Linked DNA regions of Homo sapiens. The protein of the gene in region 3 purifies or fractionates together with the protein of the main gene of each other region. This does not show direct contact. Each region holds a gene or a part of one and is shown on either strand. Other genes may lie near its edges.

Region 1 (5,188 bases), on a different chromosome or scaffold from region 3:
TGCCCGCCTCAGCCTCCCAAAGTGCTGGGATTACAGGCATGAGCCACCACGCCCGGCCTACTATATGATCTTAAGCAAATTATTTTCTCTCTCTGTGCTTTAGTCTATTGTCCTTGATCAAATGGAGATAACTGCCAATCCTATCTACTTCAAGGGGTTTCAGGATCAAATGAAAGGCACATTATGGCTGGGCACAGTGGCTCACATCTGTAATCCCAGCACTTTGGGAGGCCAAGATGGGCAGATCACCTGAGGTCAGGAGTTCAAGACCAGCGTGGCCAACATGACAAAACCCCATCTCTACTAAAAATACAAAAATTAGCCAGGCGTCGTCGTGGGCGCCTGTAATCCCAGCTACTCAGGAGGTTGAGGCAGAAGAATTGCTTGAAACCTGGAGGCAGAGGTTGCAGTGAGCTGAGATTGTGCCACTGCACTCCAGCCTGGGTGACAGAGCAAGACTCTGTCTCAAAAAAAAGAAAGGCACATTATACAGGTGCACTATAGATAGAGTATCTCTGGCTGCACATGGGAAAAACGAGAAGGCATGTAGCCAGCAAGCACAGTGGTCTTCCTATGTCCCAGAGACAGTGGGGCTGGAGGAACATGCAGGGTTGGGCTGCTGGCACAGCAACCATGCAGCTCTCATTGGCAATGATGGCAGCTCTCATTGGTGATGCCTAAGTCCCAAGTCGCTCTAGCCTCTGGGAAGCAGGATGAGGCTTAAAGCCCAGACAGGGAAGTAGCGATAGAGAATGAAAAGGAAAACAAAGGAGCTAAAAGGAAAGAGCTGGCAGACTGGGAGAGGAACACAAACCTGTCCCCAGGGCCTCATTAAGCTAGCCTACAGAATCACCAAAGAAAGGGGAACAGAGAGAGACTAACTTCAGCTTGCCTCCTCTGACCCTGGCCCGGGCTTCTCTCCAAGGGCTGGGGTAGACTCTTTCAGGACATAGGGGACCCACTGCTCCTCTCATCAAGCCCCCTGGGAGAGGCCAATCCACCCACACACATACAAACACATATGGCCACTGAGCCCGTCCTCACCACAGGTGGGCTGGCCTCTGCTCTCAAGACCTTCCCAGAAGGGAGACAGGAAATACAGAGGAGGTTCTCTGTGAGTCCTCAGGACCCCTGGCTCTTCATTGACATGTCTCTTGCTCTGGGCTTTTTAGGAACATCAAGGCTGCTGTAGGCTGGCTCGGGGGTTCCCAAACTTAGCTGCATGTCAAAATCACTGGAAAATTTTTTGGAAATCGCTAGGCCTCAGGGAGAGAAACTGGGTGGACATCAGTAAATCTGGTATTGGTGGAAGGAGGCGTTCTAGACAATTCTAGTTTGGAGCTGTGTTTGAGGACCCCTGCTTTCACTCGTGGAGGACTTACCTTCTCAATCTTGTCAGGGTCTGACAGCAGGGCAGCTCCCATTCCTCCCTAAGGAGAAACACACAAAAGGTCTTCTTACATCTGGGAGACACTATGGCCCTCTCCATGGGATGGGGTCTGGCAACTGAGCGTCACCCCGGCACTCACTTCCAAGGGACCAAGGCCCACTGGCAACCGGCACTTCTTTTAAACAAGTAGGAGGGCAGCAGTATCTGTGCCCATAACATCTGGGACTGAAGTGTGATAATTTTTTTTCTTTTTTTTTTGAGACAGATTCTCGCTCTGTCACCCAGGCTGGAGTGCAGTGGCGCAATCTCGGCTCACTGCAACCTCCACCTCCCCAGTTCAAGTGATTCTCCTTCCTCTGCATCCTGAGTAGCCAGGATTGCAGGCATGCACAACCACACCTAGCTAATTTTTTAATATATTTTTAGTAGAGACAGGGTTTCACCATGTTGGCCAGGCTGGCCAGACCAGAGTGATGACTTTTAAAATGTATAGGCTGGGCGTGGTGGCTCACGCCTGTAATTCCAGCACTTTGGGAAGCTGAGTCAGGTGGATTACCTGAGGTCAGGAGTTCGAGACCAGCCTGGCTAACATGGTGAAATCCAGTCTCTACCAAAAATACAAAAATTAGCCGAGCATGGAGGTGTGTGCCTGTAGTCCCAGCTATTCAGGAGGCTGAGGCAGAAGAATTGCTTGAACCCAGGAGGTGGAGGTTGCAGTGAGCCGAGATTGCACCACTGTACCCTAGCCTGGTTGACAGGGCAAGACTCCATCTCAAACAAACAAACAAACAAAAAAGTCATCATTCTGATCCCCTTGGTAAATCCCACAAATCTATCTAGAGTGGGCTATATAAAACTTATTTTTCAAGACTGCCCACTCCCTAACCCAGGTCTCAGTGTCTTAATAAACTAAATCCCACCATCTCCCAAGCCCTTAAAAAACAATGAATCATCCTTCATTTGAAATAAGATCAAATGTGCCTTCTTCCTATCATACTCAATGCTTGCATAGGCATCAACACCACCAGCAAAGCTACTAAGGTGCACACAACTTACAAACCTTGTCTAGGCCCTTCTCTTCTGCCAGCAACAATGTCCCAGCCCAGACCCATGCCCAACTCTAACCAAAGCCCCAGGAAATGGAAACTACCAACCCACACAACCACTTGAATCTTGATAATAGTAATGGTGGTTGCTTTTTATTGTGAGTTACTGGTGATTTTCCTGCTCTTTTCTGTACTTGTCTATATTTTCCAACTTCTAGACAATGGTATTAATTACTTTAATAATGGAGGAGGGGGATCTTTAAAAATCTGAATCCATTAAGAGTGAGATGAAGGCAAAAAAAACAATTCCAATAAATATATGCTGCCAGTATAAAGATTACATACTAATGAATGCTCACAGAATGTGCTCAGAAGGTGTAAGTTCAGTTATTACACTTTAATTTCATGTTTAAGGATGATAAATTGGAATCAGAGAGAACATTAAACCACCACAGACTCGGCCAGGCTGAGCCTGGATTTTAAAGAAGAATGGGTAGACTGGAAAATCCACCAAGCCTGGACTACATTGGTCATAAAAGAAACCTTGAAGGCCTTGAGGAAGCCCCAGCACTCCCCCTGGCTCCATCTGTCCTTCCACTCACACGTATCCAGCCCTTCCTTATAGAATCACAGGATCTAAAATTCAGTTTCACTGCCCCTTCCACAATAATAGCTTTCTCAACAATGGAATTTCCTTCCTTCCTTCGTTTCTATTAAACTTACTTGCTTTTTTGAATAGGTAAAACATTCAAAATTTGAGAGATTCAAATGGGTAACGAGTAAGAAGTCTCCCTGCCTAAGGAATGGGAAATGTTTCAATCTATACTTTTTTTTTTCTTTTGTTTCTCATATAGGGTCTCACTCTGTGGCCCAGGGTGGACTGCAGTGGCGTGATCTTGGCTCACTGCGACCTCTGCCTCTGGGGTTCATGCAATTCTCCTGCCTCAGCCTCCCAAGTAGCTGGGACTACAGGTGTCTGCCACCATACCTGGCTAATTTTTATATTTTTTGGTAGACATGCGGTTTCATTCTTTTGGCCAGACTGGTCTTGAACTCCTGACCTCAGGTGATCTGCCCGCCTCAGCCTCCCAAAGTGCTGGGATTACAGGCATCGGCCACCAAGCCCAGCCTCAATCTATGCTTTTTATCTGGCTTCAATTTTTGAACCATGAGAACACAGCAGATATTCAGCTAGTATGTACATGTGTGGCATATTGATTGGTGTCTCTTCTGACTGATCAGTGCCAGTGCTGTGCCAGTTAATTATTTTCAGTAGCACCCCTGTAATGGGAATTTACTACCTATGCATAACCAGATAAAAACTTAAGTTTCCTTCCCCAGAGGAAATCAATGTTACTAGTTTCTTCTGTGTCTCTCCAAAAATCTTCCCTGAATAAACAAATAAATATATATAATCATTCCCTATCCTCCTTATATAAATGGTATATACCACCTTACCCTGCCTCCAGATCATTTTAACTCTGCTCCTCACATAATTTAGGAACACAAAGAAGTAATCAGAAAACAGCAAAACCACCGGGCACAGTGGCTCACACCTGTAATCCCTGCACTTTGGGAGGCCGAGGCAGGTGGATCACGAGGTCAGGCGTTCAAGACCAGCCTGGCTAACATGGCAAAACCCCGTCTCTACTAAAAATACAAAAAAAATTAGTTGGGTGTGGTGGCGGGCACCTGTAGTCCCAGCTACTCAGGAGGCTGAGGCAGGAGAATCGCTTGAACCCAGGAGACGGAGGTTGCAGTCAGCCGAGATTGCACTGCTACACTCCAGCCTGCACGACAAGAGTGAGACTCCATCTCAAAAAAAAAAAAAAGCCCAAAGATACCTAAAGTCCAAGTCCAGCTGATCTTTTACCAACCAAGGTTTTCGATCCTGCAGTCTGCTTCTTCTTCATCATCTCCCACTCGACAAACCTCTGGTCAAATCGGGCTACTCAGGCCTCCCTGTGTCTACCTCATATTCATCCCCAGGCCCCTGCTTATACCACACCCTCTGCTTACAGGGTCCTAAATCTCAGCCCAAGGACAATATTTCCCTATCAAATTCCAAGTTTAAAGGCTGCCTTTCCACTCCCTTCTCTGGGCTACCATAGTCTGATCTCTTCTGATACGACAATGGGAACATTTACACTGCATCCACTTTTTTTTTTTTTTTTTTTTTGAGACAGATTTTCGCTCTTGTCACCCAGGCTGCAGTGCAGTGGCATGATCTTGCTCACTGCAACCTCCGTCTCCCAGGTTCAAGCGATTCTCCTGCCTTAGCCTCCCAAGTAGCTGGGATTACAGGCACACACCACCACGCCCAGCTAATTGCTTGTAATTTTAGTAGAGACAAGGTTTCACCATGTTGGTTAGGCTGGTCTCAAACTCCTGACCTCAGGTGATCTGACCACCTCAGCCTCCCAAAGTGCTGGGATTACAGGCATGAGCCACCAGGCCTGGCCTTTTTTTTTTAAACTTTTGAAAATTTTTATAGAGACAGGGTTTCACTCTGTTGCCCAGACTCATCTCAATCTCCTGGGATCAAGTGATCCTCCTGCATCAGCCTCCCAAATTGCTAGGATTACATGTGTGGGCCACCACTCCCGGCCTCCTCTCTTTTTTTTAAATGTATGTCTCAGTTGTTTTCCCTTTTTTTTTTTTATAATCCTCCTCTGGGCTTTCTGGGATATGTGTCTCAGTCTTATTCATGAAAAGACACAGCCCTGTCCCCTCTATTTTTCTCTGTACCTTT
Region 2 (5,188 bases), on a different chromosome or scaffold from region 3:
ACCGTGCCTGGCTCACTGGTACTTTCTTAAAAGTCTGTTCTTGGTCTTAGGGAAAAAAAGGAACTTGGATTGAGACAGAAGATAAAGTAATTGGGCAGACCAGTTTGTTGTTTTCCTATTTTTTTCTAAAGGCAAAGGAAAAGAAAACAGTCAAATCCAATTCACCTGTGGAGGAAAAATATGACTGAGAGAGCTGAAGGGGTCACAGTTCTGCTTTGCTCGGGCATAGAGTTGTTATTGGTGGAGTCATAACTATAAAGTTCTCCTTACTGGATTGAAAAAGCACCCCTGGAGTTTATAGGATTTTCCTCTTAGAGATGCTGAGTTAACTGTGCTTTCAAAGTCAATCCATAGCTTTTCTTATCAAAAGTATTCCAGTTATTCTTTTTCTCCATAGCTATGACCACACCTAGGAGATGGGATTCTTCTACCCTGTGCTACTACTTTTTTTTAGTTTGCATCTGACTGAAAGGCCTCAAACCTAATAGTACTCAGTGAATATGACACATATATTAGTGTCCCTGAGGACTACTTCAAGTTTTGGGTTACAGGTAGATAGTAAGCAAAGTTAGATCCATGGTGACAGAAATAGCAAAAGGACTGGAGTAAAGGGGATTTACTGGTGTTCCCTATCTTAATGTTGTCTGTATGTTTTACTGTGTTCATCTCTCAGGGCAACCTGTGAAGAAATCAGTGAGCCAGGTCACCAAATCAGTTGACTTCCACTTCCGCACAGATGAGCGAATCAAACAACATCCTAAGAACCAGGAGGAATATAAGGAAGTGAACTTTACATCTGAACTACGAAAGCATCCTTCATCTCCTGTAAGTTGATGGACTAAATGAACATTTCTGTTACTAATATTCATTTAGGATTTTACGTGTAGCATTTGTGGTCACTGTTTATAATAGTATAATTGAGAAAAAAAACCTTGTGTCTATAAAGTTGTGTAAAATATAACAGATCTTTTTTTTTTTTTGAGATGGAGTTTCACTTTTGTCGCCCAGGCTGGAGTGCAATGGCACGATTTCGGCTCACTGTAACCTCCGCCTCCCGGGTTCAAGTAATTCTCCTGCCTCAGCCTCCCAAGTAGCTGAGATTACAGGCGCCTGCCACCACTCCCAGCTAATTTTTGTATTTTGTAGAGACAGGGTATCCCCATGTTAGCCAGGCTGGTCTCAAACTCCTGACCTCAGGCGATCCACCTGCCTCAGCCTCCCAAAGTGCTGGGATTACAAGTGTGAGCCATCATGCCTGGCCAATATAACAGATCTTATAGGAAAAATAGGGTTGGGGCAGACCAGTCAAATCTCATGCAGTTTTGTTACCAGAGCACCAACAAAATCAGTAATAATCGTTAAGTAAAAATGCTAGTACTAATAATCTCCACTTGCATTTGTAGTCAGTATCATCATTTTTTGAAATTAGTTATTTGCATTCTTAAACCCTGAGGTTATGCTTCTTTCTTTGAGATACAGGTCCTTGAAGGGTTTTGCTTCCAATTAGAGACCAGTTTTATCAAAATTACTGGTCCAAGGAATAGGAATAGGCTTCTTCATCAGTCTCTTTAGGGGATGTATGGAGAGATTCCACTGATTCAGGAAGCTGCCTGACCTGATGCATACCCAGAGGCCCAATCAATTTTTTTTTTTAAAGTGGAGTTGAGGGTGAGATTTCTTTGCAGTGCTTTTTGTCTTCAATTCTAAGATAGCTTACTCTGGATTCCTTCAAAACATTGACATGGTTGGGGGGAAATTACCTATGTACTATTCCAGAACATAAGATTTGTTAAGTGCTAGATCCTTTCTTCCATTTTTAATTTTTTTTAATGAGAACAGATTAGTTATAACCCTTGCTCAAGGACTGACAAACTTCAGAATAATAATCTTGGTTTTACACAGGCCTTTTTTATTGATCCTCTGTGCCGAATATGTGGCTTATGGTAGATGTGAGCTCTTCCGTGACATTTCATTTGGGGAACAACTTTTCTCTTTACAGGCCCGAGTGACTAAGGGATGTACCATTGTTAAGCCTTTCAACCTGTCCCAAGGAAAGAAAAGAACATTTGATGAAACAGTTTCTACATATGTGCCCCTTGCACAGCAAGTTGAAGACTTCCATAAACGAACCCCTAACAGATATCATTTGAGGAGCAAGAAGGATGATATTAGTAAGTTTCCTACCAGTATCACAGTTGGATGGAACCTCTCCTACATTCCCTCTGCTTACATCTTAGGCACAGATTTGTCTTTAGCTGAAATCCTAGTTTTTCAATTAAAGTATGGCGTGTGACTATGCAGACAACAAATGTATCCTTCAGAATTTTTCAAACCACCCAGCTGTCTGTCTTATACCCATCAACCGTCTTGATCCTCCTCATCAATAATTGGCCAAGGGGAATGAGTTAAGGTAACCTGAGATGTCATTACACATCCTTAACGGACATTTTTTTGCCATGTGTCAAAGTGTCACATTGCATTTAGTTACCTATAGAAAATGAAGGCATTTCATTCATTCAAGGCTATGTGCTTTTTATTCAGTGGTCCACCAAAATTTTTACTACTACTAACCAGGCACACTGTGTTAGGTATATAGAGGTAAATAAAATAGACTTGGTGCTACTCAACATCAGGTTTCTAATTCAAGTTTCAAAACTCGACATCAAGTTTCAAAAGCCTTTACCATAATTTGTAGTGACCTATTTATCTCTGTCATTAGAGATACACTAATTAGTTCTTTGCATTCTTAAACTGTCATTAGATAAACAGGTCACTACAAATTATGGCAGGGGATTTTGAGGAGGAGGGAGGTGCAAGAGTCAAAGGAGGTGGGAGATAGGGAGAGCATGTCTGAATGTTGAGAAGTCTCGTCAGAGATAAAGAAGCTGAAGGTACGAGAGAGAGGAGATAACTAATGGATTAAGTCCCTGAGCAGGCAGGTATTGGAGGGATACTTAGCACAGGTGGAGTGAGTGTTCTTTAAAAGGAGGATGGAAGAGTGGGAGGAATGGGTGCAAATACTGGGGGAGTTTGTAGATTTGGTGGTGAGCAGATGAGCGGATTCTAATGTAATAGTTTCTATCTTTATGGAAATAATTTCTGCAAGAAGGAAGATGAAATCTGAAGGGTGGAGGTGGTATTAAATAGTTGTTGGGAGTATAGGGATAGTATTCTGGATAAAGCAGAATGTGGTTGTTTTACCTTTGAGGATCTCTAAATTTTTTATATCCTTGCATAGGCATTTTTTTTGAGACAGAGTCTCGTTCTGGGTGTCATCACCCAGGCTGGAGTGCAGTGGCGCGATCTCGACTCACTGCAACGTCCACCTCTTGGGTGCAAGAGATTCTCGTGCCTCAGCTTCCCGAGTAGCTGGGATTACAGGTGTGTGCCACCATGCCCAGCTACTTTTTGGATTTTAAGTAGAGACCAAGTTTTGCTCTGTTGGCCAGGCTGGTCTTGAACTCCTGGCCTCAAGTGATCCGCCCGCCTCAACCTCCCAAAGTGCTGTGATTACAGGTGTGAGCCACTGCGCCTGGCCAAGTACAGCATTTTTTAATATTATTATTATGTTCTAGTGGCCAAAATGATTTTGTTAGATTTTATAGTATGAAAATAATGAAATATTCTTCTTTATTCTAATGGAAATTTAAATATTAAGCATAACTTTTCAAATAATATATGACTCAGAGTCTGATATGTCCTGCTTTCAGAATACTAGTCCTGGCAAAAGGAAAGAGAAATTATATTATGCAATTTTTATTTAAAACTTTGTACAGTTACAGCTAAATAATGGTTACATGTATCTTTGAAACATGGCTTATTTCTAAAATAGATTTGGTTTTGATCTACCACTGTTATGTGACAAGACCTAAATTGAAAGATTCATTCTATATTAGTTATGAAAATTGACAAGGTTTCACTGGCCAGGTAAATTAATATTTTCAATGAGTGGTGGTGATGTCTTAATATTGATGCTTTAACATAGTTTTTAACTTTCTCCATTTGATTTTCTGTAAGATGTGGTCTTGATGCTTTTATATTGATTTCATAAAATTGGGAGTTTTCACTTGGTCTTCTTTTGTTATTTATTTATTTATTTATTTTCCTTCTTGTTTTGCTTTTTAGAGACAGGGTCTTGCTCCGTCACCCAGGCTGGAGTGCAGTGGCGTGATCATGGCTCACTTCAGTGTCCAACTCCTGGGCTCAAGCAATCCTCCTGCCTTAGCCTTCCAAGTAATTGGGACTATATATAGGTGCATGCCACCATGCTTACCTAATTTTTATATTTTCTTAGGAGACAGGGTCTCATTATGTTGCCCAGGCTGGTCTTGAGCTCCTGGCCTCAAGCAGTTCTCCTGCTTTGGCCTTCTAAATTGCTAGAATTACAGGTTTGAGCCATTCTGTTCAGGCTTTACTTGGTCTTTAGGAAGGCCTTATATCTTTTTTTTTTTTTTTTTTTTTGAGACAGAGTCTCGCTCTGTCGCCTAGGCCAGAGTGCAGTGGCGCTCATTTGGCTCACTTGGCTCACTGCATGCTCCGCCTTCCAGGTTCATGCCATTCTCCTGCCTCAGCCTCCCGAGTAGCTGAGACTACAGGCGCCTGCCACCACGCCCGGTTAATTTTTTGTATTTTTAATAGAGACGGGATTTCACCGTGTTAGCCAGGATGGTCTCGATCTCCTGACCTCGTGATCCCCCTGCCTCGGCCTCCCAAAGTGCTGGGATTACAGGCGTGAGCCACTGTGACCGGCCAGGAAGGCCTTATATCTTAAAGCTGGAATAAGCAAAAATTTTTTGTGTTAATAACAAGCAAAATAATTGGCATTGTCAATAGAAAGTATAGGCCTGGCCAGGCACAGTGGCTTAACGCCTATAATCCCAGCACTTTGGGAGGCTGAGGTGGGTGGATTGCTTGAGCCCAGTAGTTCAAGACCAGCCTGGGCAACATAGTGAAACCCTGTCTCTACAAAGAATATAAAAATTAGCTGGGCATGGTGGTGCATGCCTGTAATCCCAGCTGCTTGGGAGGCTGAGGTGGGAAGATCACCTGAGTCCAGGGAGGTTGGATTTGTAGTGAGCCTTTATGCCCCTGCACTCTAGCCTGGGCAACAGAGTGAGACCCTGTCTCAAAAAAAAGAAAGTCAGTCTAGGCCCGTGCAGTGATAAGGAACCTGTCAGACATGGATGGA
Region 3 (5,188 bases):
TTTTCAGTAAAATATTTAGTTCGTTCCCCCAGAATCTTAGTAAAGTATTTCATCTGTTAAATTGTTCTATGATGGCTTTAGTATCAACTATATTCTTATGTCAGGTAACAAAATCTGAATTTTTGATAATTTACTTTTTGAAACTTTGTTTTCAAGTTTCTAAGCATTTTGAAGTATATACTTTAGTTTTGGGAAAATGTCACCTATGTAATGAGAAAGAAGTAAATTCTAGAAACCGGAAGTTCTGGTTTTGGTTACTTCACTATCCCCTTATATATTGATTCCTAAACATTCTTTTCATTCCCTGCTTCCTCCCATAATGTCATTGTCTGTTCCTCCATCTATTTTGGTCAGTGCTTTGCTGTCAGCTGTTTGAGTTTTAACTGTGCCAATCTAGCACTTCCTCAGGAGAGATTCTCTTTCATCAGCCTGGAGTAGCAACCCCAGAAATTACCATTCCAAGAGCTTAATTAGATCTTGACAGATCCAAAACAAGCATAAACCCTTGGAGTTCAAGTACCCATGGATGGTAGCTGCCTTAACACACAGGAAACCCCACATTCCCTGGTGTCTGTGTTCTAGGAGATTATTTAGAACCATGTTATTCAATTGGTGGCCACTGCTAAAAAGAGAATTCCAAGAAAGCCCACATCCATCCTGGACTTAAGAGGGTTGGGTTGACCCTAAAAGAGTTAAGATTCCACTGGTATTGAGCACCATTTGTCACAGCATGTTAGGCTTCCTGTGAGTCAGTGCTCTTTTCATTTTCCTTCTCTTGCCACATATCCATCCTGTCTCCAAAACCTGTTTCTGTTTGATGCATATGTCTTGCTTCTATTCATTATCTAGTTTCTGCAGCCAAGTATCTCATCATTTCTACCTTAGTAACCTACTTCTCCCTCTAGCATCACATTCTACACTCAGTCCTTTATGCCTCTTCTGGAGTAATTTTTTCTGCCAGCTAATTCAGTGCTGTCACAGTTTTCATCAAAAGTCTATAATGGTTGACCATTACCATTCGTGGTACTCAAAATTTCATGACCATTTGTCAAGCTGGCCTAAACTACTTTATCCATCCACCTGACACTATCAATCAGCATAATAAAGCAAATGTTGCTTACAGTTTACTTCAGCCAGGTTTTCACCCCCACTTCCGCATCTGCCCCTTGTTCTTTTGTTAGAATCCTTCTTCTCAAATCTTACAGGATTCTTTCCCAAGACTCTTTGTAATGTCGGCTTTCATAGTCATTGCTACTTAGTGTACTTACAGCTTGTCAGTGCATTATAATGTTAAAACTTTTTAGTTTTCTTCTGGATTTAATTCAAGTTATTGTCTTATAAATCTTATGTTTTAATGTGTATGTCAGTGTGTGTCTGTTATTATTCAGGATATATGTTTTATGCTTCCTGGTAGCCTACAGGTAGGTCTTCAATAAATATCCATCTTGGGCTAGACACCTAATTTGTCCAATACATTATACCTTTCTTTTGTCTACTTTTGGTGGTGATCGAATCTACCTTAGAGGGTGGTTATAAGGATAAGGAGGAAAATACTTATTCAGTGTTCCTAGTACAGAGCCTGACAAATAGTAGATACTTCAGAAATGGTTATTTTTATTTTTAATTTAGATGCTATATCTTGAGGGAAAAAATATGGTTTTTTCACTGACACTGGACTACATTAAAAGCTGTTTTTCTATTTCTAGGTTGAATATATTTCAGGAAAGGTTTTTTTCACCACCTGTTCTGATTTGAATATGTTGAAGAAATTAAAATCTGCAGAAAGATTATTTTTGCTGATTAAAAAGCAGTTTCCACTTATTATTTCTTCTGTAAGTAAAGGTATGGCATATTCATATGCATGTTGCTTTTACCCACATGATACATTGTACTCCAACATTTTCTGCTTGATAATATGTAGCCATTTTACACTTTAATATTCATTGACATGTGTGGGATCATTAATTATGTATTTTTCTGTATTTCCTGAATATTATCACCTGATTGTAGTAGAATATTTCTTCTCTTTGCAACCTGCGTGCTGCCTTTTTAATGAGATTTTAATGTCCTAAGCCACATTTCTTCTTTGAGAATTATGATCAGGTACCTTCTCTAGAGATATATATGGTCAGTTGCATTTATTTGGATTTAGAAACATGAACTAATCCAAAATGCATTCTTTTAATAGTAAATCAGTGAAAATCATCACCTTGTAAATTTTAACTGTGTGATATAATTGGAAAAATACTGCATAGTAAAAATTTATATTTCTAGGACCTTAAATGTTTTCGATAAACTTATGCCCACTTACCAAGCATTAGAGGTAAAGGGGGCATAAGAGATTCCTTGTCCACTCTCTAAATTTTATAAATATGCTGCTAAAACAACATATGGATCTTGATAAAAGCAGCAAAACATGGTCAGACACTGCAGGATTAAATGCTGCCGTAAACTTCAATTTGAATTACGTAAGAGATCATGTATTTATAGCCTATAATAAACTATTTTAAGAAAGATGCAAATGGCAAGAAATCAAGACCAAGCAGAGAAAATTGTTTTAAAGCAAATCCCAAAGTATTATACTGTGGGATCAATATAATTCCTCCTAGTACTCTACACACATTCATCTTAAAGAAATACAGTAATTTTGGATCATCTTGATGACTGTGGTTCATCAAGAAGAGATTAAACTTTGCTGAGCATACTGGCAGTATGCTAAGCTATAAATGGGTTGTGAGTTACTTTATGGAAACACATTATAATATACTTATTAATATGGTGTGGGCTAAAATGTAACAGGCCCAAGATTCAGCTCCTCTGTTTCTGAGCTGAGTTTTTCAGTTTATTTTTTTCTTATAAAAACTTAATTTTTATAGGGAAGATCACCATTATTTCAAAGATTGATAAACACTCTAGGTCTATGTATATATTGAAGAGATACATATATTACCATAGCACAAATAATCTTTCTAGGGTATTATATGGTAATTCTATAGGAATTTTAACACAATACGGATGCTATATATGCAATGTAAGAATGAACTTTATTCTGCACAATATTCTTATGGTAAATGGAATATGAACTCCAAATGAAAGTGAAGTTATTCGTGTAGCAATTTAATAAAACTTAATTCAAGGAAATAAAGGTAATTGAGTTTGAGGGTGATGATTGTAATAGATGGTCTTTAAAGCTTCAATAGAGGATCAACAAGATTTTTCTTATTTAGGAAAAATATTTAATGAAATGCAAAGACTTATAAATGAAGATCCAGGAAGTTGGTTGAATGCCATTTCAATTTGGAAAAATCTTCTTGAACTTGATGCAAAAAAGGAAAAACTTTCTCAGAGAGATGATAACCAACTAAAAAGAAAAGTGGGAGAAAATGAAATCATTGCAAAGAAATTAAAAATAGAACAAATGCAAAAGATAGAAGAGAATAGGGACTGCCAGCTGGAAAAACAAATAAAAGAAGAAACTCTGGAGCAAAGAGATTTTACCACTAAAAGCGAAAAGTTTCAAGAAGAAGAATTTCAGAATGACATAGAGAAAGCAATTGATACTCATAATCAGAATGACTTGACTTTCAGAGTATCTTGTCGCTGCAGTGGAACTATTGGAAAGGCCTTCACTGCACAGGTATGCTTGCATCCTAAAGTGGAGTCTGTCGCCCAGGCTGGAATGCAGTTGCACAATCTGGCTCACTGCAACCTCCACCTCCCAGGTTCAGGTGATTCTTTTGCCTCAGCCTCCTGAGTAGCTGGGATCACAGGTGTGCGTCACCACACCCAGCTAATTTTTGTATTTTTAGTAGAGACAGGGTTTCACCATATTGGTCAGGCTGGTCTGGAACTCCTGACCTCAAGTGATCCAACCACCTCGGCCTCCCAAAGTGCTGGGATTACAGGCGGGAGCCACCATGCCTGGCCTGGGGGTCCCATTTTTTAAAGAATTAATTATTCTTTAGATTTAAAATGAGATGCAAACCTCTCACAGAACAAATAACTAGCCGCAGACAATTAGTTCTTATGGAATTAAATGTCTTTAAAACTACATTTTCCTTTTAATTTTTCCTCAGATGTTTAAGAGGAATGGTATGCCATTCCAAGTAATGACTTTCTTATACTTTCTGCCTAAAAATTTCCTTAAATCTACAGATGTCCTTTGTATTTGGAAATCCTGATACCATAGTCCTCAGCTTTTGGGGTTTCTCTTCAGTTCAGCTTTGTGCTTATTCAGTGGCTACTCTGCACAGGTCCTGTACATGGGATTGTCACCAGGACCTAGACTGCAAATGCACATGAGGTCTCAGCAATGTAGAGAAGAGCGAACACCACAAACTGTTGCCATCACCAGACCTCATCAGTTGGCCCTTACAAAGTTCAGTGATGTTAAAGGCCATTGGTCTGAATACTTTATCAACCTTAAAATCAGTCAAACCCTAAAGGGTGAGTCTAATGATACTAATCTGATAATTTTTAAACACATAGGCTTATAGTAGCTGACATAGTTAATCTTTCAGCTTGCATCTATTTCCTGAAACCCAGAATGATCATATTTATCAGGTCATAATCTAGTTATTTCATATACCTAAAATTACAAGGATAGAGATTATGCATGAGTAGACATTAATGCCATGGGGTGTACTGGGGGCTAGGGCAGGTAAAATACAGCCTTACTGCCTTGAATAGGAAATGCTTTCATGTACAATTTTAATATCAGAACTCTAAATTACCATCAGATAGCCTGACTTGATTTTCTTATAGGCTACTCTGTTAGTTTTGCTGACATTTAAACTTAAAATTTTCATTTTTAGTATTCTTTTCTTTAACTTGGTACTTTTCCAGGAGGTAGGAAAAGTAATTGGAATTGCTATTATGAAACACTTTGGATGGAAAGCAGACTTGAGGAATCCACAATTAGAGGTAATGAGTATTTGTTTTATTTTATATACTTGTAACCTAATTCTTTAAAGACAGTGTCCTGTATTCTTATCATACTTTTCCGTTTTATTTTACAGTTATAAAAAGTGTATCTACAGGGATCCAACAGTCCATTTTATCTTTAGCAGTAGAATAGTACAGATAGTTTTGCTAGCAGTTTTCACTGAGAAAATGTCTTATGCAAACTCCAAAAAAAGATTTTTTGGAATGGAGTTGTCTGGTCACAGTTGAAGAAAAAAACATTTAT

What was found. Proteins that work in one complex are often made in the same cells at the same time.
Region 1: the proteins of THUMPD2 (region 3) and DUS2 fractionate together in Homo sapiens (co-fractionation; one large-scale study listed by BioGRID). This does not show direct contact.
Region 2: the proteins of THUMPD2 (region 3) and TPX2 fractionate together in Homo sapiens (co-fractionation; one large-scale study listed by BioGRID). This does not show direct contact.

The regions. Positions count from the first base shown.
Region 1 is NC_000016.10:68,057,308-68,062,495, reverse strand, and holds part of DUS2 (tRNA-dihydrouridine(20) synthase [NAD(P)+]-like), read right to left. Parts: intron 1,431-5,188; coding exon 1,383-1,430; intron 1-1,382. UniProt on the Homo sapiens protein: Catalyzes the NADPH-dependent synthesis of dihydrouridine, a modified base found in the D-loop of most tRNAs. Specifically modifies U20 in cytoplasmic tRNAs. Activity depends on the presence of guanosine at position 19 in the tRNA substrate.
Region 2 is NC_000020.11:31,776,814-31,782,001, forward strand, and holds part of TPX2 (targeting protein for Xklp2), read left to right. Parts: intron 1-673; coding exon 674-825; intron 826-1,999; coding exon 2,000-2,171; intron 2,172-5,188. UniProt on the Homo sapiens protein: Spindle assembly factor required for normal assembly of mitotic spindles. Required for normal assembly of microtubules during apoptosis. Required for chromatin and/or kinetochore dependent microtubule nucleation.
Region 3 is NC_000002.12:39,768,159-39,773,346, reverse strand, and holds part of THUMPD2 (U6 snRNA (guanine-N(2))-methyltransferase THUMPD2), read left to right. Parts: intron 1-1,706; coding exon 1,707-1,842; intron 1,843-3,227; coding exon 3,228-3,637; intron 3,638-4,155; coding exon of another isoform or gene 4,156-4,302; exon of another isoform or gene 4,303-4,845; coding exon 4,846-4,923; intron 4,924-5,188. UniProt on the Homo sapiens protein: Catalytic subunit of the THUMPD2-TRM112 methyltransferase complex, that specifically mediates the S-adenosyl-L-methionine-dependent N(2)-methylation of guanosine nucleotides, most probably at position 72 (m2G72), in the U6snRNA of the major spliceosome.